Homo sapiens: one gene and its partners. The protein of the gene in region 7 interacts with the protein of the main gene of each other region in a pairwise test. Each region holds a gene or a part of one and is shown on either strand. Other genes may lie near its edges.

Region 1 (3,500 bases), on a different chromosome or scaffold from region 7:
TCTCGGGTTCAAGCGATTCTTCTGCCTCAGCCTCCTGAGTAGCTGGGATTACAGGCGCCCACCAACAGGCCCGGCTAATTTTTGTATTTTTAGTAGAGATGGGGTTTCACCATGTTGGCCAGACTGGTCTCAAACTCCCGACCTCAGGTGATCTGCCTGCCTTGGCCTCCCAAAGTGCTGGGATTACAGGCGTGAGCCACTGCACCTGGCTTCCTTCTTGAGTTTCACTACACCAGGGACAGCACAAACATGCCTCCTCTTTACTGCCCTGACCTGGGGACTCACCCCTCTCCTGGTGAGTGATTTGGGACAGGCCACTCCAAAGCCAGGTACACCCATCCTGTAACACGGCTTCCCTCCTGTGGCTTCTGTGGCTCTACTCCTGACCCTCTCTCCATCACCCAAGGCTCCATCTCCCCCCTCACCGCAGACACAGGGGTCCCCAAAGTTCTTCCCTTCATTCGTCTTGGCCCTATCACAAATCCCACTCACCATCTCAGGGCCAGCTCCGAGGCGGCCGTTTTTTCTGACTTTCCTACCTCCAACTGGACTCAGGCTCCCATGGCTAGCTCTGGGCAGGACACAGCCACCATGGATAGCCCATGTCCCCTCCAGCTCAACACAGATGAGCATGTCTCCTCCCCAACATGACCCCCAATTCCATCAGAGTCAACAAACCACCAACTCCCCAGTGCCCAGGTTAGAAAACCAGATGGCTTCAGGTTCCACCCTGCCATTCGCCAGTGCCCATGCCCTCCCCGAAGCCCCTGTCTTTTTCTTTCTTCCTTTCTTTCTTTTTTTTGAGATGGGATTTCACTCTGTCACCCAGGCTGGCTTGCAGTGGTGTGATCATAGCTCACTGCAACCTCCACCTCCCAGGCTCAAGCAACCCTCCCATGTCAGCGCCCTTGAGTAGCTGGGACTACAGGCACCACCACCATGCTCAGCTAATTTTTTTGTAGAGACAAGGTTTCACTATGTTGCCCACACTGGTCTCAAACTCCTGGGCTCAAGAGATCCACCTGCCTCCGCCTCCCAAAGGGCTGGGATTATAGGCATGTGCCACCGCCAGCCCCTGCCTTTCCTACTCTGTGGCGATGTGGAGTGAGAAGGTTTTAGTCCCAGCTCTAGATGTTACAACCTTCAGCGAGGCACTTGATTGCATGGAATCTCTGTTTCTCCCATGCAAACTGGGCACATACAGTCCCTCATAGAGTTATGATGAAGATTTAACAAATTAGCATGAAGAGTGCTCAATGCATGGTAGCCAATATGACAAATACTCACCAAAAACTGTCCCTTCTGCCTGAAATTCTCTCCATCCTCAGTCACTGTCCCAGGTCAGGTCCTATGAGCTCAGACCCTTGAGTTACTGGGACAGTCCCTTCCCTGCCTAGATACCACCACCGGCCCACTGGGATGGCATTCTTCAACAGCATGTCACCCCAGCCCCTCCCTGGCTTTCTGCCGACTCCCTTCTATTTTTTTTTTTTTTTTTTTTTGAGATGGAGTCTCGCTCTGTCTCCCAGGCTGGAGTGCAGTGACGTGATCTCAGCTCACTGCAGCCTCCGCCTCCCAGGTTCAAGTGATTCTCCTTCCTTAGCCTCCCGAGTAGCTTGGATTACAGTCATGTGCCACCATGCCTGGCTAATTTTTGAATATTTAGTAGAGACGGGGGTTTCACCACGTTGGCCAGGCTGGTCTCAAGCTCCTGGGGTCAAGTGATCTGCCTGCCTCGGCCTCCCAAAGTGCTGGGATTACGGGGATGAGCCACCACCCCCATCCTGACTTCTGAAACTCCTTATCTTGGCATTCAAGGCCCTTCACGAATCGGTCTCAACTTTGTTTCTTGTTGGATCCCTCAGCTTATTCTGTTCCTTCCAAGGGAACTGTTCCTGTTCCCTCAGCAGTCCGCACCATCCCACCGCTGTGCAGATGGTTTCCTCTGCCTGTTGAGAGCCCTCTTGCCCCCCGAAGGCCTCTTTCTGAGCACCTGATGCAGAATCCCAGGGCATGCTGTCTGTCTCCTTTCAGCCACACTGAGTGTGTTCATTTCACTCACTGGCTGTGTGACTTTCATCAAGAGAATTAACCTCTCTGTGTCCCAATTTTCTCTCTGGCAAAACAAAGACAGCACTAATATCTAACTATGCAAAGTACTTAGAACAGGGGTTGTCCCTTACTGAATGTTAGAAAACGTTAGACGTTATTCCTAAAAAAGAAAAAACAGGCTGGGCATGGTGGCTTATGCTTGTAATCCCAGCACTTTGGGAGGCTGAGTCAGAAGGATCGCTTGAACCAGTTGGAGCTGGAGGCTACAGTGGGCTATGATCTCACCACTGCACGCCAGCCTGGGTGACACAGCAAGACCCTGTGTAAAAAAAAAGAAAAGAAGAAACAAAAAAACAAACCGAGGCCAGGTGCAGTGGCTCATGCCTGTAATTCCAGCATTTTGGGAGGCTGAGGCGGGCAGATCACTTGAGGTCAGGAGTTCGAGACCAGCCTGGCCAACATGGCAAAACCCTATCTCTACTGAAAATACAAAACTTAGCCGGGCGTGGTGGTGCACACCTGTAATCCCAGCTACTTGGGAGGCTGAAGCAGGAGAATCGCTTGAACCTGGGAGGCGGAGGTTGCAGTGAGGAGGGATCGCGCCACTGCTCCCCAGCCTGGGCGACACAACAAGACTGTCTCAAAAAAACCAAAAACCAAAAAATAAACCAAGGCAGAAGCCTAAAATAAAGTCCTAGTGGTGGATGTCTTGACCCCTGCTGGGCATCCCAGAAGCTTCACCTTCTACCCTTTTATGGAGTTTTCTCCCCTGAACCTTGCTGTTTGGTGACTATGCCTGTAATTCTCTCCCACACCATTTGTTTTTCTTTCTTTCTTTTTTAAAAATTGAGACTGGGTCTCGCTCTATTGCCCAGGCTAGAGTGCAGTGGTGCGATCATAGCTCACTGCAGCCTCCACCTCCCAGGCTCAAGTAACCCTGCCACCTCAGCCTCTTGAGTAGCTGGGACTACAGGCATGCGCCACCACGCCCGGCTAATTTTTTGTATTTTCAGTGGAGACAGGGTGTTGCCATATTGCCCAGGCTTGTCTCGAACTCCTGAACTCAAGTGATCTGCCCACCTCAGCCCCAAAAAGTGATGGGATTATAGGTGTGAGCCACCACGCCCCACCTCCACTCTACTTTTCTACCCAGGAAATCTCACATCCTTTGAGACCCCTGCTCTGGCCCTGCTCTGGCTCAAGGCAGGTAGACCCCTGCTCCTGGCTTCTCAGGATGGTCCTACTGGGTGACCTTCAGGTCCTCATGTACTCTTTATCCTCCGCCACAACCCTGACCCTACTTTCTTCCTACCTGTGGGTGTGTGTCTGGACACTGGGGCTGGTGTGACTGGGTTATGCATGTTCGCAAGCAGCCTGGAAGACACTGAGGGTGGCCTGGTTTCCCTTAAGGCCTGGTTTGTCTTCCCTCCCTGCAAGAGCATGAACAC
Region 2 (3,500 bases), on a different chromosome or scaffold from region 7:
AATATGTGAAGCTGAGTAAGAAAAAAGTAAAAAACCAATTGTTAGGAAATCAGAAGGTCCAATCCTTTAATGAAATTGGCAGTATCTTCTACCTCACAGGATAGAAATACCAAAAAAATTCAAATCATATTGGGCTCAAATGTTCAAAAATATGCCATCATATTTGCAAGGAGTGGGTGGACAGTGATATGACTGAGGAGGGAAGGGAAAGTCAAGTCCACGCGGTTGAGTGGGGGCTGAAGCTGGCTGTGCTTCCTATAGCTCTGGCATGGAGCTAAGTGTTCAGCATGCTTTATTTCTTTGAATCTTCAATATAACCCTAATAACACTATGATTATTAGTTCCATATTACAGAAGGAGAAATAGGGGCTAAGAAAAATATCCTGCCAACAGTTACTAAGCTTCTAAACAGCTGAGCAAGGATGTAAATCAGGGATATCTGAATACATTAGCCCATGCCCCAGTTGATAAGGCAGCAGTAACTGAACTGGAAGCCAACCCTGTATGTTATCAAGATCTACCAGCCATCTACAGCTGGCCTCCTGGGAGGCCTGATACAGGGTATCTGTCAATGATATGGAAGCCTGATAAGCTGCTGGGCTTGAGAGGGAGCAGCCCTGGGCTTGAATTCTGGTTCTGCAACTTAATACCTCTGTATCTCCGGACATGGTGTTTAATCTTTCTGAAGTCCTCATTTCTTCATCTATGCAGGTACAATGTTATACATTCTTATAGAGCAGAATCTCAGAATTCCAAGGAACTCTAAAGATTTGTAAACCACCGAATCCAAGATCAATGCCAGTGAGGCATCTATGAAGGGTAGCGGGAATTCCAGGTAAGGGTGTGGGCTCCGGGGTTATAATATGTGGACTTCTAAATCCTAGTCTTGCTAGTTATTGGCGTATCACGCTGGGTATGTTAACTCAATTTCTATACCAGCCTCCTGATTTCTAAAATAGAGATGAAAATGCTGCAGTTGCTAATAACAACCACATCTACTTCACTGGCATGTTGTGAACATTAAATAAAATGTTTAGCAAAAATGCTTGCATGGAGTGAACATTAAATGCATTTTTTTTTTTTGAGACAGAGTCTCACTCTCACCCAGGCTGGAGTGCAGTGGCGCAATCTTGGCTCAATGTAAGCTCAGCTTTCTGGGTTCACGCCATTCTCCTGCCTCAGCCTCCCGAGTAGCCGGGACTGCAGGAGCCCGCCACCACACCTGGCTGATTTTTGTATTTTTTAGTAGAGACGGGGTTTCACTGTGTTAGCCAGGATGGTCTCGATCTCCTGACCTTGTGATCTGCCCGCCTTGGTCTCCCCACTAAATGCATTTTTAAAGGAACTCTTAGAGGAGAAAATTATGCTCTAGCTCAGAATATGAGAGAAGAAATCTTGTGGTTTAAGAGAGAATTGGCTTATGACAAATAGATACAGGGGAAAATACACTGATAGGCTATTTCAGCCCAGTGTATAAGTCATCTTCTTCAAAAGTATCAAAAACACTGTTCATCCTCAGTTCTTGTATTGAAGATTTTTTTTCTTTTTTTTTTTGAGATGGAGTTTCACTCTTGTCGCCCAGGCTGGAGTGCAATGGTGTGATCTCAGCTCACTGCAACCTCCACCTCCCAGGTTCAAGTGATTCTCCTGCCTCAGCCTCCCGAGTAGCTGGGATTACAGGAGCCCACCACCACGCCTGGCTAATGTCTGTATTTTTAGTATAGATGGGGTTTCGCCACGTTGACCAGGCTGGTCTCAAACTCCTGACCTCAGGTGATCCGCCTGCCTTGGCCTCCCAAAGTGCTGGGATTACAGGCATGAGCCACCGCACCCGGCCTCTATTGAAGATATTAATGTAAAATCATAATGCTTAGAAAATGTCTTATTCATGTTATCTAAAAAAAAAAAAAAAAAAAAAGAAGAAGAAGAAAAGCATCATGTTTTTTAGAGGATTTCCTTTTGCTGCTTCCCTTGGAGATGAGTGTTCTAGAAGACAAACCTAGTATATGGGGATTGGCCTTCATGGATTTTGAGAACCTCCAAGGGTTCACCCATTTCCAGAAGAAAGGAAACACACATTTATGGAAGACCCATGACATGCTTATGAGCTCATTTGACATGGAGTGGGTTTCCCACACTTCCTTTCCCGTGGAATACTCTGTAGGTTCCACCACAAGTGAACAGTCAAGGCAGGTGCCTTACAAGCAGGTGGCTGGCTCTCGAATCAGGGAAGGTTGGGGGTTTGCTGCTTACCTGAGTTGATGGGAGAATCGTAGCGACTGGCTAACAGAGATGACCTTTCCCGGCTCTCTTTCTCCATCTCTTCTTTCAAGATCAACTGTCCCAGGCCTGAGTTAAGCTATTCACAGAAAAAAGGAAAAAAAAAAAAAAAAGAAAGCAAAGCTTGCAATTACTTTCATGGAGCTGCAGTTTCTTTGTAGCAGATCCCACAAGAAGTTTCTCTTGCTGGAGGGCCTGAATGCATGTGGCCCCAGAGCCTGGTAGTTCCTGAAGAGGTAGGTCAAGTTTGGGACCCTAAACCCTCTTAGCCCTTTCAGTTTCAAAGCTCCATTTCCCTAAGTCAGGCTCTGTGTTAGAAGAACGTTTTCCTTCCTCTGCTTTCCCTAAAGAGCCAGGAGACCTCAGAAGGCATGTGTGAGTGTGTGTGGATTTTTGATGTGGGAAGGGAAGACTGGGGCTGGTATCCTTTAAAAAGAAATTGCCTTGATTTGTTTAAAAACAAGAAATAAAGGTAATACATGCTAATTTTACAGATTTTGGAAAATCTAGAAGAAAAGAAGAGTAACCCATAATATGTCACTCAGAAATAACACTATCTTTTGATTTATATCTATCTAGTATTTTTGTATACACACATATAAAACTGAGATCATACTATAAATGCAACTTTGTATCCTTTGACTAATATCACGTGCATTTCCTATATGCTTAGAAAACATCATTTGAAAGGATTCAGCAGCCTCTTGACTGATAACAGACTGTCCTTCTGGGCTGCTGCAGGCCCTTGCTACAGGAAGGAGGGTATGAAGAGGACCCCTTCATGGTGGCCATTCCTTTCATTCCTTTTCTCCTGGCCCACATCCTGGGAAAAGACTTGGAGAAATGTTCAATCCCACAGTCATTCCTTCAGCAGAACTGCATGAGGGAAGGAAGGTGTGGCACTACCTGGGTGGATACCACCTTGCTCTGCCTGGCCCTCCAGCAGCCTTTCAACACATGCACTGCACACATGCCCCCATGTGGTCTCTCTTTCCTTCCCACAACAACCCAAACCTTCCACACCCCTCTGACCTCCAGCACCAATGCCATCTCCTCTAGAGCCCAGCAGGTATTCTGCCATATTCTAGTTACTATTAACAGACACCTGTCTTGCCTTGCCTGCCAGATTTCAAGCCCCTTGAAGACTGGGACCACCTCTTGCCTATCTAGATGGTTTATACATAGTAGTCATTCAAAAAATATAGATCTTATGTAACTAG
Region 3 (3,500 bases), on a different chromosome or scaffold from region 7:
TGCTCAAGGTCACTGAGCAAGGCTATGGCAACACACGGTCCAATTGGCTCAGAGCTTCGTTGTCAGGAAGATGCCATCATTCTATTTGCATTCATCTTCACTGAGTGCTTGCTAGGGAGAGGGCCTTGGAGAGGGAAAGGCCAGACTGAGTGTTACCTGCTGCCAGCGTCCTTACCTGTGCAAAGAGTACTACGAGGCTATCATTGTCAGGGAATCCGAGATGCTTGGAGTAAAAGTGATGGAGAGCAGCTATGTCACTCTGAATCAAATCCTTCTTCTCATTGTCTAACTTATCCAGATCTGTGGATAAATAATCCATTATTCACCCAGTAGAAAGCGTGGGATTTCTAGCTACATCCTATTTTTGCTGTAAATGATACAGAGGAAAGGAACGGGCGAAAAAAAAAAAACCCAAAACTAACATGTTGAACCCCCAGAGAACATTCTTCCCCATTACTTGGTTTAACTGACAAACCCTAAGGAAAGAAAGCAAGCCATTTCTTCCTTCTCTCCCTCTGATGACTAGAAGTCACTTGGGACGTGAGATTTCGACTGACTGTTAGCAATGAGGTCAGGGATGGGTAGCAATGACTCATAACCAGCCTCAGCCTAGTCAAGGGCCCCCCAATTGGCCCGGGAATCTGGGCCGTGGTCAAACAACTGGACAACCCCTGATTTCACGGCTTTCAGTAAGAACATCAGCTATTTAGAGGACGCAATTCAGCAAAGATCCAAAAGTATTCAGCATGCCAAGAGGGCCAGCAGGAGGTAGCTCAGGGTGCAATAATTCATTTTGGGAGCTCCTACCTCCTTTAATTATTTCCTAACAATCCTGTCAACTCAGAAGAAAAAAGCTAAAAGTGCTTTTCGAAACAGCACAAGAGTAAAAATAAAAACTAGTAATCAAAGAAATCACTACTCCTCTGAGCACAAACTAGCCCGTCCTCGCTTCAATCCTGCCCAACCCATGTGAAATCTGTGGCTGAGAGAACTGCGCGGCTGGTCACAGAAAGACTTACGTGATTCAAACTCCTTCACAGCTAACAATTTTTCCGAAGGTGTTCTCTCTGGGTGGATTTTCTAGCAATTGGGGAAGAAATCACACAGATACAGATTTTTTAACAACCAGTGTAATAAAGTGGCACTTTCACTTTTACATCAACATAAAGAAAAAGTAACAATTCTTAAGGAAGTAAAACAAGCTACTCAAGGACTCCACCACTAGGGCTCTCCACCAGCCAAATCCAAAGACTCTTCTAAAGCGCTTTTTTAAATGTCTACCGTGTACCTAACACCCTGATAATACTATGCACACAGTAGGCTCAGAAATACCTGTTACGGGAAAGAACAGGGCCGGAAAACAACTTTTTAGGGTCCTTACTTAAAAGGACTGGGTCTACAGACAAACCATCCTATTTATTATTTCTCCTTCTAAAAAGGAACAAAATCAAACCCCCCATCCATTTTACACTTTCTTTAAGCATAGGCTAAAATGATCTCAAATTCTGTGTTTCAAAAAGAACACTTTTGGTTGTATCTGTGAGCCCAGATTCACTTTAAACGCGTTGCTGGCTTTGTTCTAGACACCCCAAGAGGAGCTAACAATAGTAAACCCGCTAGGCTTTGAGAACATGAATAAACTTGGTGTTGACAAGAGTTCAAAGGCAGAGCTCAGGAGCTGGCCCAAGGCCATGTCTTTGTAATGTGGCTATTCAATTTGGGGATACAGGTGGTCTAGCAGGGCACGCTCACCTCCCTAGTTAACATGTTAAGCCTCCCCTTGGTAGTTTGGTAGCCTGTCTCCCCTAATCCTTTGCAAGCTACTAGAATACAAATGGTCTGTTTTTTTAATCATCAAGTCCTATAGAGATGAAAAGATGGGCAGGTAACTTTCATTTAATACACTATTAGTAGTAGTAGTAATTATAATAAAACTTGAATGAAGCTTGTATAAACTCATCTTTGCATTCAGACTACCCTCCTGGTGCCGAAATATTTCAATAGTTCTTTTTTGGAGCAGAAATCTTCCATTCACGGGATGCATTTTTATAAGATTTATAAGTCATCTCGCTTGGGAAAGCTTTTCATTCAGGAAAGTCTACCAGCCTCTTCTGAATTCTTAACATATCACTATAAATATCATCAATAATTCAGGGGAACAAAATAATAAAACACCAGCTTGGCCACCCAATCCTCCCAAGATGTGCGGAGATCCCATCTGATGACTTACTGACTCTGATACCTCACACCCAGTCATCCTATTCCCTCTGACTTATTCAGCCCAAATACTCTGCATAAATTTAAAAATAACTGTTATTAAGGATCCGAAAGTTAACCTCCTGCAGGGAAACAATTCTGATGTTTTGGTCTCACTCTACAGGCAACCCATGAATGGCCTTTGTTACTCTCGGCTGGCTGGCGAGGTAGCATTTCGGCAAGCACCTGACCCAAGCTGAACATAGCTGAAGGATGACCTCAGAGTTTTGAAATGTTCTACTTCTGTTTACACAGCCCAGGATCCTAACTTGGTCTGGGGACAGATACATGCTAATCATTTCCATCACATTTGGCTTAGATTAAAAAATAGAAAAATTTTAAGGGTGGAGGAGGGCTGGTAGGTATACAGGAGAAGTGGATGAAATTTCAGTTTGTTTTTTTTTTTCATTTTTAGAGACAGAGTCTCATTTACTTTGTTGCTCAGGCTGGATGGAGTATGGTGGCACAATCACAGCTCACTGCAGCCTTGAAGTTCCGGGTTCCAGTAATTCTCCTGCCTCAGCCTCCAGAATAGCTGGGACCACAGGTGTATACCACCACACCTGGGAAATTTTTTTAATTTTTAAAATTTATTATAGAGAATGGGTCTCACTTTGTTGCCAAGGCTGGTCTCGAACTCCTGGATTCAAACAATCCTTCTGCCTTGGCCTCCCAAAGTGCTAAGATTACAGGTATGAGCCACTATGCCCAGCCAAAATTTCAGCTTTAAAAGATTTATAGTCCAGAGGCCCTGCCACCAACTTCTCTGACAGCACTGAGGAGCAAGACCTCCACAGCCTGGACATATGCCTTCTAAGCCCCACACTGCCTATTTCATTGGATCACAAGGACAAGTTCTATGGCATTTTCCTGTCCTCTTTTTAGTTTGGCCCTTCGAAGATTAGGTGTCTAATTATTATGCAATCAGCAAGAATGAACCAGACCAGGCGGAGAACAGTCAGTACGGTGGCTAAAGCAATTTCATCTTGGATGCTGATATACCATGTTGATTTCTGGTTAACTCCTGCTCTGGGAATGCTTCTAAGATTTCTACTTTGTCTATGGCTACCTTAAATCCTGCCTTAGGTCAATACAATCTTGAGCACAAATCTTGCTCTCAGGCAGATTTGCATAGCATCCTTGCCTTTCCTTGTAACTGCTGTACACATTTCTTCCCTATGGTATATAAGCCCTGGCTCTGGTGGGTAATGGTGCAGGGATCCACCATCTTGTCTTGCTGCCGC
Region 4 (3,500 bases), on a different chromosome or scaffold from region 7:
CAATACTACAATGAGATACCATTTCATACTCACTAGAATTGCAATAATCAAAAACAGGAACAGTAACAGATGTTGGCTAGGACATGGATAAATTGGAAACTTCATGCATTGCAGGTGGGATGTAAAATAGTGCAGCCACTTTGGAAAACAGTCTAGCTGTTCCTCCAAAAGTTAAACATAGAGTTACTATATGATCCAGCAATTCCTTTACTAGATATATTCCCAATAGAATTGGACCTATATATGCATGCTAAAACTTGTACACACACATTCATAGTGATGTTATTCATAAAAGTCAAAAAGTGGAAACAATTCAAATGTCCATTAACTAATGAATGGATAAGCAAAATGTTGCAGATGTATTTAGCCATAAAAAGTAATGAAATATTGATACATACTACTGCGTGGATGAACCTTGGAAGCATTATGCTAAGTGAAAGAGACCAGACACAAAAGGCTACATATTGTGTAATTTCCTTAATATGAAATGTCCAGAATTGGCAAATCCATAGAGACAGAAAATGGTTGCCAGGGACTGGGGAAAGGGAAGGGAGGCATGGAGAGCTGCTAACAGGCCCCATATTTCTTTATGGGATGATGAAAGTGTTCTGGAATTACATACTGGGGATGGTTGCACAACCTTGTGAATATACTAAAAACCACTGCACCTTGAAAAGTTAAATTGTATGGTATATGAATTATAGTTCAAAAACTAATAATTTTGTTAGTATTTAAAATATATAAATAATTTTTAAAGGTTATGAGAAGCCACATATATGTGGTATTATGCTGAGAAAAAGATTAAGCTGAAAATTTATTTTTTATTTATTTATTTTTATTATTTATTTATTTTTTGAGACAGAGTCTGGCTCTGTCGCCTAGGCAGGGGTGTGGTGGCACAATCTCGGCCCACTGCAACCTCCGCCTCCCAGGTTCAGGCCATTCTCCTGCCTCAGCCTCCTGAGTACCTGGGATTACAGGTGCCTGCTATCATGCCCGGCTAATTTTTTTGTATTTTTAGTAGAGACGGGGTTTCACCATATTAGCCAGGATGGTCTCGATCTCCTGACCTCGTGATCTGCCTGCCTCGGCCTCCCAAAGTGCTGGGATTATAGGCGTGAGCCACTGCGCCCAGCCTAAGCTGAAAATTTCTTAGGAATTTGCTGGTGCACTTAAAATGTACAGGCCTTAAGAAAATATGTATTTGCTTTAAAGAAAATACATTTCTTGAATACTAGCAATACTACATTTCTTGGGTAATTAGCCTTCCTCCACCTCCCACCCCTCAAATTGCCTAAAATATTGACTTGATTTGAATGATACTTCCAGGAATCCTTGCCAGATTCTTTAGTAATTATTAGATTTACAGTATATCTATATGGTAATTTCATTTCTCCCATGCTTCTGTCCAAGTCAAAATGTAGAGATGAATCTTGAAATTTTACATTTTTATTTGGGAAGAAAGAATTGCAGTTTGAGGACCAGGTGGTCTTTGGTATGTCCAAAGAACAAAGAGAAGGTTGGAGGTTTATCAAAAGGAGAAGTGTCATGTAGTGCTCTTTGAGAAAGTTCACTGGAACTAGTGAGGTTCTGGGAAGCTGGCAAGTTCTAATTGGTGGGTAGCTGTGGTGGGCACAATTAGTCCTATATTTGCAGCAAGTTATCTCAGCAGCTATAAATAAAATTGGCCTCAGGTTTTAGCAGCCAGTTTCAGCAGCCAGACTTGCAGAGAATTCCATTCTTCAAGCAATGTTATGTGTCCTGAGTGCCTCCCCACCAACACACCCCAGCTTCTTGACTCTGTTTTAGTTGGGTATGACAAGAATGACTCAAATTTGTATGATCAGCTTTCACTCTTCTGTTTCATTTTGCTTTGATATCTTTTTTTCTGTCTTGCATTTTTTCCCTCAACATTTCATTATGAAAATTTTCAAACATGCAGCAAGGTTTAAAGAATTTTATGTTGAATGTTACTCCTGCTACCTAGATTCCACCATTAACCTTTTTCTATAGCTGCTTTATCATGTACTTATCCATTTACCTATCTCTCAATCCATCTATCAAGCCATCTTTTTTTTTAGAGACAGAGTCTCACTCTGTCACCCAGGTTGGAGTGCAGTGGCATGATCTCAGCTCACTGCAACCTCTGCCTCCTGGGTTCAAGCGATTCTCGTGCCTCAGCCTCCCAAATAGCTGGAATTACAGATGTGCACCACCATGCCCGGCTAGTTTTTGTATTTTTAGTAGCGATGGGGTTTCACCATCTTGACCAAGCTGGTCTCAAACTCCTGACCTCAAGTAATCCACCCGTCTTGGCCCTCCAAAGTCCTGAAATTACAGGCATGAGCTACGGCGCCCGGCCTAAGCTGTCTTATTTTATGTATTTTAAGCTAAATTACAGCTATTACATGTTCCCTGAAATAACAGCATGCGTATCAATTATATAGTTCAATATTTGTTTATAGTTCTTACTTTTGAGGTAAAATTTACAAAGCAGAAATCGCAGTGTATATTTGCTGAGTTTTCACAAATGCATACACTTGTGCGACTCAAACCCCTGCCAAGATACAGAACATTTATCATCACCCCAGAAAATTCTCTCATGTCCCTTTCCATTCAATCCCTAACCCCCATCCCCAAGAAGCGATCTCAGTTCTGATGGTTTTCTACCGCAAATTAGCTTTGCCTGTTTGAGAACTTCATATAAAGGAAACAGTGCATAATGTACACTCTATGTAAGGCTTCTTTCACTCAGCATAATTGGGATTCTTTTTTATTGCTGGATAGTACTTCATTGCGTAAGTATGCCACATTTTGCTTGTCCATTTTACTGATGGGTATCTGGTTTGTTTCTGATTTTTCAGTATTATGAATAAAGCTATGACAAAGAAAAGAAAGGTTTAATTTGAAGAATGAGACTCTCCTCTAAATTACCAGGTCCAGAGAGGCGTGGGAGTGAAACAGCAGTCACATCTCCTTTACCTTCTTGGGCTAAGTAATCATGTCTTGAAACTTGCTTGCTATTGCCATAAGTAGCTATAAATTAATCTAACAATGGCACTGTCTGGATACTATAACCCATACAATGTAGCCAATCACTAATCAACGTTATTTTTTTAAACCAGTGAGAATTTCTGACAGACAGCTTTGTATCAGCCCACTCCCTGCCCCACTTTTTTGCCTTTAAAGATCTGCTTGAAACAAAGGCCAAATGGAGCGCCTGTCCAAGGTTACATGAAGTCTGAGTGTTCTGGGCAGGCAGCCGTCCTCATTTTGGCTCAAGTAAACTTTTTAGAATTGTATTTTATGCCTCAATTCCTTTCTTTAGGTCGACAGCTACTATGAACATTCTTATACAAATCTTTTTGTAGACATATGTTTTCATTCCTCTTGAGTAAATATTTTTGAGTGGAATTGCTGGGTGATAAAAGGTACTTTTAATAAAAGTTAATTTTATGAAACTGCAAGACTTTTCTCCCAAAGTGTATCATTTTACACTC
Region 5 (3,500 bases), on a different chromosome or scaffold from region 7:
CATCACCAACATGATTTTTATTTTTAATTATCCTAACTTCTTTTTTTTTTTTCTTTTTATTTGAGACAGAGTCTTGCTCTGTCACCCAGGCTGGAGTGCAGTGGCGCAAACTTGGCTCACTGCAACCTCCGCCTCCTGGGTTCAAGCAATTCTCCTGCCTCAGCCTCCCAAGTAGCTGGGATTAAAGGCACGCACCACCACGCCCAGCTAATTTTTTGTATTTTCAGTAGAGATGGGGTTTCACCATGTTGGCCAGGCTGGTCTTGAACTCCTGACCTCAAGCGATCCACCTGCCTCAGCCTCCCAAAGTGCTGGGATTACTGGCATGAGCCACCACACCCAGCCAGCTAATTTCAAAATATAAAATTATGCTGTAAGGCCCCATGTTGAAAAGTATCTTAAGAAATACGGCCAGGTGTGGTGGCTCACACCTGTAATCCCAGCACTTTGGGAGGCCGAGGTGGGTGGATCACCTGAGGTCAGGAGTTCGTGACCAGCCTGGCCAACACGGTGAAACCCCTTCTCTACTAAAAATAAAAAAATTAGCCGGGCATGGTGGCTAACACCTGTAATCCCAGCTACTCGGGAGGTCGAGGCAGGAGAATTGCTTGAACCCGGGAGGCATAGGCTGCAGTGAGCCAAGATCACGCCACTGCACGCCAGCCTGGGTGACGGAGCAAGACTCCGTCTCAACAACAACAACAAAAGAAATCCAACAACAATGCTACTTGCCAGCTTCCCACAAATGTACAGTAGTCAGAAATCAACTTTTCTCTTATAGAAATGTTTACCTAGTTTAAACTCACATGATTCTAGCATCTGTGAGAATCACTGAAGCTTCACTGTCAGTGTTATCTCTGGTTGGAGTTATACAAGTTCAGGTTATAGTTATATAGTGTATCAAGTATTTGGTGATATAATAAATTCTAGGCAAAACAAGTCATGTCAAGGTTCCACTGTATCACAAATATATGCTTGACCTACTAAGTCAATAACAAGAGGATTTCAAGTGACAGAGATTATTCAGTATATTTAATAATAAATGGGCAATGAAGTGAGCTATGATTGCACCACTGCACTCCAGCCTCAGCAACAGGGTGAGACCTTGTCTCTTAAAAAAAAAAAAAAAGGGTGGGGCAATGAAGCCTTACTTTCCACAAGCATGGTATCTGTATCTAAAGCAGAAAGAGAACATGTCACTCAGCTTTGTTCTCAGCAGGACTCTAGATAGCAGGAAGAAAAAAGCTACAAGGCCCAAACTATCAACCATTAGGTGAACAGTGCAGTACAACAAACACTATAGGTCTCCACAAATGTTAATAAACTATCTCCCTCCTCAGTCATAGAATCTTGGAGGTGGAAGGAACCTAGGATATCATCTAATCAAAACTCCTTAATTTAGAGATGAACAAGGTAAGTGTTTCCTGAATTCTAGAAGCATACCTACCGGGGGTGGGGTAGGTGGTGGCACTTGTGGTTTTAAATCTGTTACTTCGGTTGGCCTATAGTCAGCAAATGCTGATATATCTGCCTCTTTTTCTACAATGATACAGAGTGGGGTTCCTAGAGGGACATCTCTTGTGCCTTCAGGGACCAGGATTTTTGCCAGATAACCTTCTTCCTGTACTTCAAAACCTTAAATAGAAAGAAAAAACATTATGGGACTTAAGAGATTCCACTATCCCTCCAAACTCACAGCACAGTTTTAAGTAAAGTGATTTTTCTCATTCAAGCTAGCTATATAGCCTTTTTTGCAACCTATTTAACCTTCTGTGTCTTGGTTTCTTTACCTACAATACGGGGATAATAATAGTACCAATCTCACTGGATTGGTACTGGGATGTTATACATTTAAACAGATTAATATTTTTCAAGTTCTTAGAAATAATACAACCTGGTACAAAGTAAATGCCAAATAAAAATCTGTTCAATAAAACTATGAAAGATTACAGACAGTGGTTAGTTCTCAAAGTTATTAAAAAATCTCCAAGGACAGTCCCCATGCAGACTCACAGGACTCTAAGATGGTGTCAGCTATGCTGCTAAAGATAAGAACCACATACATGCCTAATTAAGGGAGCTACCAACCTAGATACTAATGTTGGATTTCAGCCCTAAAAGCATCTTTGGAACTTTTCAAAGAGGTTATACTTGATATTATACCAAGTATTTCAATGTAAAGAATTACAGCTTTACTGGGATTTCTATGGTGTTGACAACTTATATTTTATTCAACTACTGCCTTCCTTGCAAAGAACTTAAACATTTAGGATTGCAAAAGTAAAACTAAAAGAAGCCATTGGCTTTCTGTACTGTTGTGCCTCTCCTTGATGAACACATCTTTGATGAATCCTTCCATTTCCCAGCTGAGAATACCCAATAAAAAATATGTTTAGGCTGGGCGCGGCGGCTCATGCCTGTAATCCCAGCACTTTGGGAGACCGAGGCGGGTGGATCACCTGAGGTCGGGAGTTCGAGACCAGCCTGACCAACGTGGAGAAACCCCGTCTCTACTAAAAATACAAAATTAGCCAGGCATGGTGGCGCATGCCTGTAATCCCAGCTACTCGGGAGGCTGAGGCAAGAAAATCACTTGAACCCAGGAGGTGGAGGTTGTGGTGAGCCGAGATCGTGCCATTGCACTCCAGCCTGGGCAACAAGAGCGAAACTCCGTCTCAAAAAAAAAAAAAAAAAAAAAAAAAAAAACACACACACACACACACACACACACACACACACATATATACACACACATATATATATATACACACACATATATATATGTTTAAGTCTGGAGATATATATATATATGTTTAAGGCTGGGCACGGTGGCTCACGCCTGTTATCCCAGCACTTTGGGAGGCCAAGGTAGGTGGATTACCTGAGGTCAGGAGTTCAAGACCAGCCTGGCCAACATGGTGAAACCCCATCTCCACTAAAAATACAAAAATTAGCCAGGCATGGTGGCAGGCGCCTGTAATCCCAGCTACTTGGGCAGCTGAGGCAGGAGAATTGCTTGAACCCGGGAGGTGGAAATTGCAGTGAGCCAAGATCATGCCATTGCACTCCAGCCTGGGCGACAAAGCAAGACTCTATCTCAAAAAAAAAAAAAAAAAAGGCTGGGTGCGGTGGTGGCTCACGCCTGTAATCCCAGCACTTTGGGAGGCACAAGGCAGTCAGATCACGAGGTCAGGAGTTCAAGACCAGCCTGGCCCACATAGTGAAACCACATTTCTACTAAAAATACAAAAATTAGCCGGGCGTAGTGGCATGCACCTGTAGTCCCAGCTACTCAGGAGGCTCAGGCAGGAGAATCGCTTGAACCCAGGAGGCAGAGGTTGTGGTGGGCCGAGATCACGCCACCGCACTCCAGCCTGGACAACAGAGCCAGACTCTGTTTCCAAAAAAAAAAAAAAGAAGTGTTTAAAATGAAAAGGCTCCTGGGCCACAATAGACTTCAAAGTTCAACCAAGGTAACACTTCTCTAGTGACTAGTCTCT
Region 6 (3,500 bases), on a different chromosome or scaffold from region 7:
GCCACTGGGACCGGCCTCTGTTTTTATAAAGGGTTTCCATTTCTGGGGAAAAGAATGGGACTAAGAGGGCCAGCTCCATAATCAGGTCTTATATCTCTTTTCAAAAGCCTTACCGGCCCGGCGTGGTGACTCACGCCTGTAATCCCAGCACTTTGGGAGGCCGAGGCAGGCAGATCACCTGAGGTCAGGAGTTTGAGACCAACCTGGCCAACATGATGGTGAAACCCCCTCTCCACTAAAAATACAAAAATTAGACAGGTGCCACGGTGTGCACCTGTAATCCCAGTTACTCGGGAGGCTGAGGCATGAGAATCGCTCGAACCTGGGAGACAGAGGTTGCAGTAAGCCAAGATTGCGCCACTGCACTCCAGCCTGGGTAACAGAGCAAGACTCCATCTAAAAAAAAAAAAACCCTTACCAAACATTCAATCTCCTATTACCCCAAGGCACTCACCTCCAATGGTGCTCTCCTGGTACTCATGGAACTGCCCTTTGACAAAACGTAATACCAGGCTTGACTTTCCCACTGCAGATTCTCCCAGCAGGACCAATTTGAACTGGCAAATTTTGCTGGCCTGGGGTTGCCCATTGGGCCTAGCTGTGCTTCTGCTAGTCATGGCCAGATTATCAGAATGGGAAAGGGTGGAGGGAGGGGGATACTGTAAAGGGGGGAGGGGGAAGGGGAGGGGATTTCCAGGCTTCAACACTCCTGCAAGAAAAAAAAGTGAATAAAATTAAACATACGTCCATTGAAGCTGCAATCGCTTTTCAGAGAAGGATAGAACCTCTTCATCTCCTTGCTTCTATGAGGACTTAGCTCTGAGAAGGTCCCAGGCAGCTGATCCTCAGTGGTAAGAGTTGGGAAGAGCAAAATAAGAACTGCTTCTGGAGTCTGCCCTACCACATAATCTCTAACTGCCAAGGGAGCCGAAATAGAGAGACTGAAAACTGAGAGTTTTTAATTCCCCAGTAATTCCCCACCAGGTCTTCAAAGTTTTTTGTTTGAGTCACACAAAGTGATCAACCTTTAGCTGGCCTGAAGAATATCCAGATCCACCCACCGGTACCCTAGATCCCCAGTATCTCCTTGGCATCCTGGTGCTGTGCTCTTCTTTTCCTTTTCTTCTTTTTTTTTGAGACGTCACTCTTGTTGCCCAGGCTGGAGTGCAATGGCACAATCTTGGCTCACCACAACCTCTGCCTCCCGGGTTCAAGCAATTCTCCCACCTCAGTCTCCCGAGTAGCTGGGATTACAGGCATGCACCACCACGCCTGGCTAATTTTGTATTTTTAGTAGAGACGGAGTTTCTCCATGTTGGTCAGACTAGTCTAAGAAGTCCTGACCTCAGGTGATCTGCCCGCCTTGGCCTTCCAAAGTGCTGATATTACAGGCATGAGCCACCGTGCCTGGCCTTCTTTTCATTTTTCCTTAGCTCTTTGTCAAAATGAGAGATTCACTCTAGGGGTGTGGGATAAGAGTCACCACTCCTAAGGGCAGAAGGGTAGTTGCTGCTGTATCCTTTATATATGACCGGTCTCCCTGATAAGACATTTCTAAAGATCTAACCAGGGTCCCATTGCCACAAAATCTATCCTTTCTCATTTTTGGTTGAAGGTAAAGAGAGAAATACAACCAACAGATCACATTCATTATCAACTCTTTGTTTCATTAACAACTCTTTTTTCACTTTGTTTCTGCCATCTTTCCAAATCTGAAAGTCTATCAAGAATCAGTAAGCTTGACCTACTCTCAACTTGCAGCTGTCTTGCTGGTGCCTAGGGATTAGATTACCCTCCACACCAAAGGGGCCTAACAGCTGTAGCCCTCCAAATTAGAGGCAGAGAAAGGTATACCTTCTAAAGACATGCAGAAGTCTCCAGAGGATGGTATAGGGCGTTAAGTCTGCAAGCAATCAGTATTTGATGAAAGAATACACTGAATCAGCTCCTCTATCTTCTAAGAGGGCTAAGAAAGCTGCTGGTGGGGCAGGGAACAGAGAGAAGAGTTGGGACTTTGAGATTCTAATCGTCTAAATCTGAATACATTTCATCATCCTGACTCTGAGCGGAAAGGAACTATGAAATTCAAAGGGAAGTTAGCATAGGCAGAGCATGCAAAAACCTCTCTCCCAAACCTAAGCATTGCTTGAGAGTTGTACTTTGCTTGTTCAAATTACTCTTTCGCTTTTCCAAAGCAGATCCTAGTGACTTCACAGACATCATACTCTATGGCATATGTGGGGAAACATCATTATTTTGTCACCACAATTAGTGGGACTGGAGTTAAACTGGGGTTAAAAATTTTCAGTAACCCCACTTACTAGATCGTAAAGACAGAAAATCATACAGGAGGCAATTCAGAGGAATAAAGGCTCTGGAGTCCAATTCTCCACGTTTGTTTTTCAGCTCTACTTACTAGCTATGAACCTTGAGCAAGTCACTAAATATATGTGTGCATTCATTTCCTCATCTGTAAAATGAGATAATAGCCTTATAAGCACCTACTTCATAAGGGTGTTGTAAGGATTAAATGAGATAATGCATATAAATAACTAAAGTATTTTAAGTATTTGATAGATACTAAGTGCTAAATAAATATTAAGCTACTAATCATTACTAATATGATATAAAGAGAATTTCTCTACCTCTCTAAGCCTTACCTTCTACCTTTGTAAAATGGAAAAAATACCATCCTCATAGCTACAAATAATAAGTGAAAGATGTGTTTAGCATAGTGCTAATAGCTATTAAAATATATCTCAATATTAGTTGTTATCAATATATTCCTAAAAAGCAGCCACAGCCTGGGTGCAGTAGCTCATACCTATAATCCCAGCACTTTGGGAGGCTGAGGTGGATCACCTGAGGTCAGAAGTTCGAGCCCTGCCTGGCCAACATGGTGAAACCCCGTCTCCACTAAAAATACAAAAAAAATTAGCTGGGTGTGGTGGTGCATACCTGTAATCCCAGCTACTCCAGAGGCTGAGGCAGGAGAATCGCTTAAACCCAGAAGGTAGAGGGTGCACTGAGCTGATGCGCCACTGTGCTCCAGCCTGGGTGACAGAGCGAGACTCCGTCTCAAAAAATAAAAGGCGGGCACAGTGGCTCACGCCTGTAATCCCAGCACTTTGGGAGGCAAAGGCAGGCAGATCAGGAGGTCAGGAGTTTGAGACAAGCCTGGCAAACATGGTGAAACCCCGTCTCTACTAAAAATACAAAAATTAGCTGGGCGTGGTGGCGCGTGCCTGTAGTCCCAGCTACTTGGGAGGTTGAGGCAGGTGAACTGCTTGAACTTGTGAGGTGGAGGTTGCAGTGAGCTGAGATTGCACCACTGTACTCCAGCCTGGCGACAGAGCAACAGCGAGACTCAGTCTAAAAAAAAAAAAAAAAAATTAGCCGGGTGTGGTTGGTGGCCGGCATTTGTAATCCTACTCGGGAGGCTGAGGCAGAACTGCTTAAACCCGGGAGGCGGAGGTTGCAGTGAGCCGAGATCGTGCCAC
Region 7 (3,500 bases):
TGGCATGTCTTGTCACTCCCTGGGACATGCATTCTATCACTCTCCAGGTACTCCAGCCACCCCCTTCCCCCACTCAAGCCCCCAACCCCAGGTCCTTCAGAGGCTAACCTCCCTACCAGAGAGACTCCCCCGCACCTTCCTTCCCTACGTCCCTATACAACAGCATCTGCAGTAAGATGTAAGTCATGGCTTAATGCAGGGACCACTCCCCCTTCACGACACACAGCGCTTCATAAACAGCAAGTGACTAATAGTGACTAACCAATGGAATCACCAAAGCAAAGATGGCTATAAACAGCATAATGTATTATCTCCTCTATAGAGCAGTGTCTCCTTCTTTTTTTTTTTTTTTTTTTTTTTTTTTTGAGATGGAATCTCGCTCTGTGGCCCAGGCTGGAATGCAGTGGCACAATCTTGGCGGCTCCCTGCAACCTCTGCCTCCCGGGTTCAAGCAATTCTCCTGCCTCAGCCTCCTGAGTAGCTGGGATTACAGGCACCCGCCACCACATCCAGCTAATTTTTGTATTTTTAGTAGAGACAGGGTTTGGCCATGTTGGCCAGGCTAGTCTCAAACTCCTGGCCTCAAGTGATCCGCCCACCTTGGCCTCCCCAAGTGCGGGGATTATAGGAATGAGCCACCGTGCCCAGCCCAGAGTCTCATTTTAATAGGGAGGTTCAGGCCCTTAATCCAAAGATGGGAGTAACAAAGAGTCAATCAGCCCCCAAGGGGACCAGACAGGCTAGAAGAGCCCCTGCCATCCACACCTCACAGCATGGGGCCTGCACTACCTCAAGTCAGCTCGGGCTGATGCTCTCAGCCCCCAGGAGGTAAAGTTACACTCTGGCTGTGTCTGGCCCCAAGTAGTTCAAGGGATGCTAAACTAACAGCTTTGTTAACTGTTACCCTCCAAAAACACATAGACACACACATATTTCATATCCATCCTCTTGGGGAGGTGGAGAAAAAAGAATGCTGAAAAGTACAATTAGGCATTGTCTTTGCTCCACTCCGTGTGGCAGTATCTAAAAAATTACACCCTCTGGCAATGAAATTCTTACAAGTACTGTAAACAAACAAGTCTAAAGGCCCAGCAGTAATACAATCTGCCTTTTTAACAGAGTACACAATTATAGTTAAGATACCTTATTGAGTTCTTCAATTGCCTGTACCAGGTTGAATAATGGCCTAATCTCTGGATCATGTGACTTTATTTGGAAAAAGGGTCTTTGCAGAAGTTATTAAGTGAAGAATTCTGAGATGAGATTAGCCTAGATTACCTGGGTAGGCCCTAAATGTCCTCATAAGTGTCCTTATAAAATAGAGAAAGAAGGAGTTTTCACACAAATAAGCAGAGGGGGCAGCCACAGGAGGAAGGAGGCAGACATTGGGGTGAGGGGCGACAAGCCAAGGAATGTTGGCTGCCACTGGAAGCCAGAAGAGGCAGGGAAGGATCCTCCCCTAGAGTCTCTGGAGGGAGCGTGGCCCTGCCAATACTTTTTAAGACTTCTGGCCTCCAGAACTGTGAGAGAATCAATTTGTTACTTTAAGCCACCAGAGTGGTAATTTGTTATAGCAGCCACAAGGAACAAATAGCTTCCCTGAAAATATAAGGAATCTATCTGATGCCCTTTGGGACGCATTTCCAGGCATGGAGAGACCCTCCTTGGCAGTGGGGAATGACGCCACCTTTCACCGGCAGCCTCTCTCTCCTCCTCACTCTAGCCCTTCAGCGTAGTCTCAGGAGCCTCTGACAATTCCTCATTGACTCCACCGTCCCCTCTGCTCCCGCACGTCCATGAGACCCACGGAGAGCAGAGTCTTCACGAACTCCCTCTCAGGCTCCACTCCCAGGGCTGAACCAGCCCATATCAGGGTTTTGCACCTCCATGAGCTATGTCAAAATAGGACCCTATGAAGCTCCACAATTGGTTAGCAAGTGTCTACACTGCAGACCACTCTGAACAGAAAGGACAGCCCAGGTGGCTCTTTCCATGAATCTAGACCTCATTATCACAGCCGTACGATTACAGTCATCCTAACAATTGGTGTTGGTTCCCACATGCCAGGCTTAAGGGTGCATGCTAGGCTTTTCTTTAGGCAGTTCTTCCTGTACCTTCCAACTTCTGTGCAAATGCAGTATTTCCAAGCATTTCTCCCCACTCTCTCACTTCTTGCTCTTTCTCTAGCCCATCCTCCTCCCTTTCCTGAAGGTGAAAGGACAAGGCAATGAGGTGATCTATGGTGCTGGGGAAATACCCCCTGGAAACCCCATCCAGCCCCTCATCCTCATACCACTCATTCCAGCCCCTCCTCCTCATACCGCTCAGTCCAGCCCCTCAACCTCATACCGCTCAGTCCAGCCCCTCCTCCTCATACCGCTCAGTCCAGCCCCTCATCCTCATACCGCTCAGTCCAGCCCCTCCTCCTCATACCGCTCAGTCCAGCCCCTCATCCTCATACCGCTCAGTCCAGCCCCTCCTCCTCATACCGCTCAGTCCAGCCCCTCCTCCTCATACCGCTCAGTCCAGCCCCTCCTCCTCATACCGCTCAGTCCAGCCCCTCAACCTCATACCACTCAGTCCAGCCCAGGCCTTGGGCCGTCGTACCAAGGCCTTCCGTGAAGCAGGCCCAGTGTGGTAAGTCGAAAAATGGCCTCCCAAAGATAGGCCCACATCCTAATCCCTGGAACCTGAAAATGTCATCTTTAGGGGGATGGGACTCTGCAGACATGATGAAGTTAATGGTCTTCAGATGGGGAGGCTGTCCTGGATTAACTGGGTGAGTCCTAAATGCCATCAAAAATGTCTTTAAAAGACGGAGGGGATCAGATGGACAAGCAGAGAAGAAAGCAAAGTGAAGACGGAGACAAGAGAATAACATGGCCACAAGCCCAGGAGATGCCCATGGCAGCCACCAGGGGCTGGGAGAAGAAGCAAAGTCCAAGTCTCCCCTTAGGTCTCTGGAGGAAGCGTGGCCCTACTGACACCTTGATCTCCAATGAGACTGATTTTGGACTTCCAGCCTCCAGACTGTGAGGGAATCACTTTCTGTTGTTTTAAGCCACCAAGTTTGTGGTCATTTGTTACAGCAGCTGCAGGAAACTAACACCCCTGGTGTGTGCCCTACCATCATCTGACACCTTGATTCCCAAGTTCTGCCATCAAGGTTCCCTCCATGAAAACCCTGAGCCCTTAAGCTACCTCACCTTGGAGAAGGTTTCCTATTAAGCTCCCTCTCAATTTTCAAATACCAGCTCATTATCAGCTTGTTTTCATCCACCCCCTGACTTACAAGCTCCATACTTACAAGTTGATAATACTGAAATGGAATGCCGTTCTTGATTACACAAAACCATTTAATCGACTTCATCTATAACAACTGAAATGGGGAAAAAAAATGAATGGGAAATTAAGGAAAAGTCAATCAGTGATCAGCAAAGGGAGACATCTAATTCAATTTGACAGTAATCAGAGGTTTGCAGGCAAAACAAAGCTAACAC

Evidence for each region.
Region 1: the proteins of HUNK (region 7) and LIMK1 interact in a two-hybrid assay, tested with the Homo sapiens proteins (one large-scale study listed by BioGRID and IntAct).
Region 2: the proteins of HUNK (region 7) and ABLIM1 interact in a two-hybrid assay, tested with the Homo sapiens proteins (one large-scale study listed by BioGRID and IntAct).
Region 3: the proteins of HUNK (region 7) and SMYD2 interact in a two-hybrid assay, tested with the Homo sapiens proteins (one large-scale study listed by BioGRID and IntAct).
Region 4: the proteins of HUNK (region 7) and IFT88 interact in a two-hybrid assay, tested with the Homo sapiens proteins (one large-scale study listed by BioGRID and IntAct).
Region 5: the proteins of HUNK (region 7) and DLAT interact in a two-hybrid assay, tested with the Homo sapiens proteins (one large-scale study listed by BioGRID and IntAct).
Region 6: the proteins of HUNK (region 7) and RAB5B interact in a two-hybrid assay, tested with the Homo sapiens proteins (one large-scale study listed by BioGRID and IntAct).

Annotation. Positions count from the first base shown.
Region 1 is NC_000007.14:74,086,804-74,090,303, reverse strand, and holds part of LIMK1 (LIM domain kinase 1), read right to left. Parts: intron 1-3,500. UniProt on the Homo sapiens protein: Serine/threonine-protein kinase that plays an essential role in the regulation of actin filament dynamics. Acts downstream of several Rho family GTPase signal transduction pathways.
Region 2 is NC_000010.11:114,441,776-114,445,275, forward strand, and holds part of ABLIM1 (actin-binding LIM protein 1), read right to left. Parts: intron 2,360-3,500; coding exon 2,254-2,359; intron 12-2,253; coding exon 1-11. UniProt on the Homo sapiens protein: May act as scaffold protein. May play a role in the development of the retina. Has been suggested to play a role in axon guidance.
Region 3 is NC_000001.11:214,315,659-214,319,158, reverse strand, and holds part of SMYD2 (N-lysine methyltransferase SMYD2), read right to left. Parts: intron 1,081-3,500; coding exon 1,020-1,080; intron 301-1,019; coding exon 176-300; intron 1-175. UniProt on the Homo sapiens protein: Protein-lysine N-methyltransferase that methylates both histones and non-histone proteins, including p53/TP53 and RB1. Specifically trimethylates histone H3 'Lys-4' (H3K4me3) in vivo. The activity requires interaction with HSP90alpha.
Region 4 is NC_000013.11:20,570,157-20,573,656, forward strand, and holds part of IFT88 (intraflagellar transport protein 88 homolog), read left to right. Parts: intron 1-2,864; exon of another isoform or gene 2,865-2,995; intron 2,996-3,500. UniProt on the Homo sapiens protein: Positively regulates primary cilium biogenesis. Also involved in autophagy since it is required for trafficking of ATG16L and the expansion of the autophagic compartment.
Region 5 is NC_000011.10:112,035,408-112,038,907, reverse strand, and holds part of DLAT (dihydrolipoyllysine-residue acetyltransferase component of pyruvate dehydrogenase complex, mitochondrial isoform 2 precursor), read right to left. Parts: intron 1,636-3,500; coding exon 1,448-1,635; intron 1-1,447.
Region 6 is NC_000012.12:55,984,078-55,987,577, reverse strand, and holds part of RAB5B (ras-related protein Rab-5B), read right to left. Parts: intron 710-3,500; coding exon of another isoform or gene 618-709; coding exon 455-617; intron 1-454. UniProt on the Homo sapiens protein: The small GTPases Rab are key regulators of intracellular membrane trafficking, from the formation of transport vesicles to their fusion with membranes.
Region 7 is NC_000021.9:31,918,020-31,921,519, reverse strand, and holds part of HUNK (hormonally up-regulated neu tumor-associated kinase), read right to left. Parts: intron 1-3,500.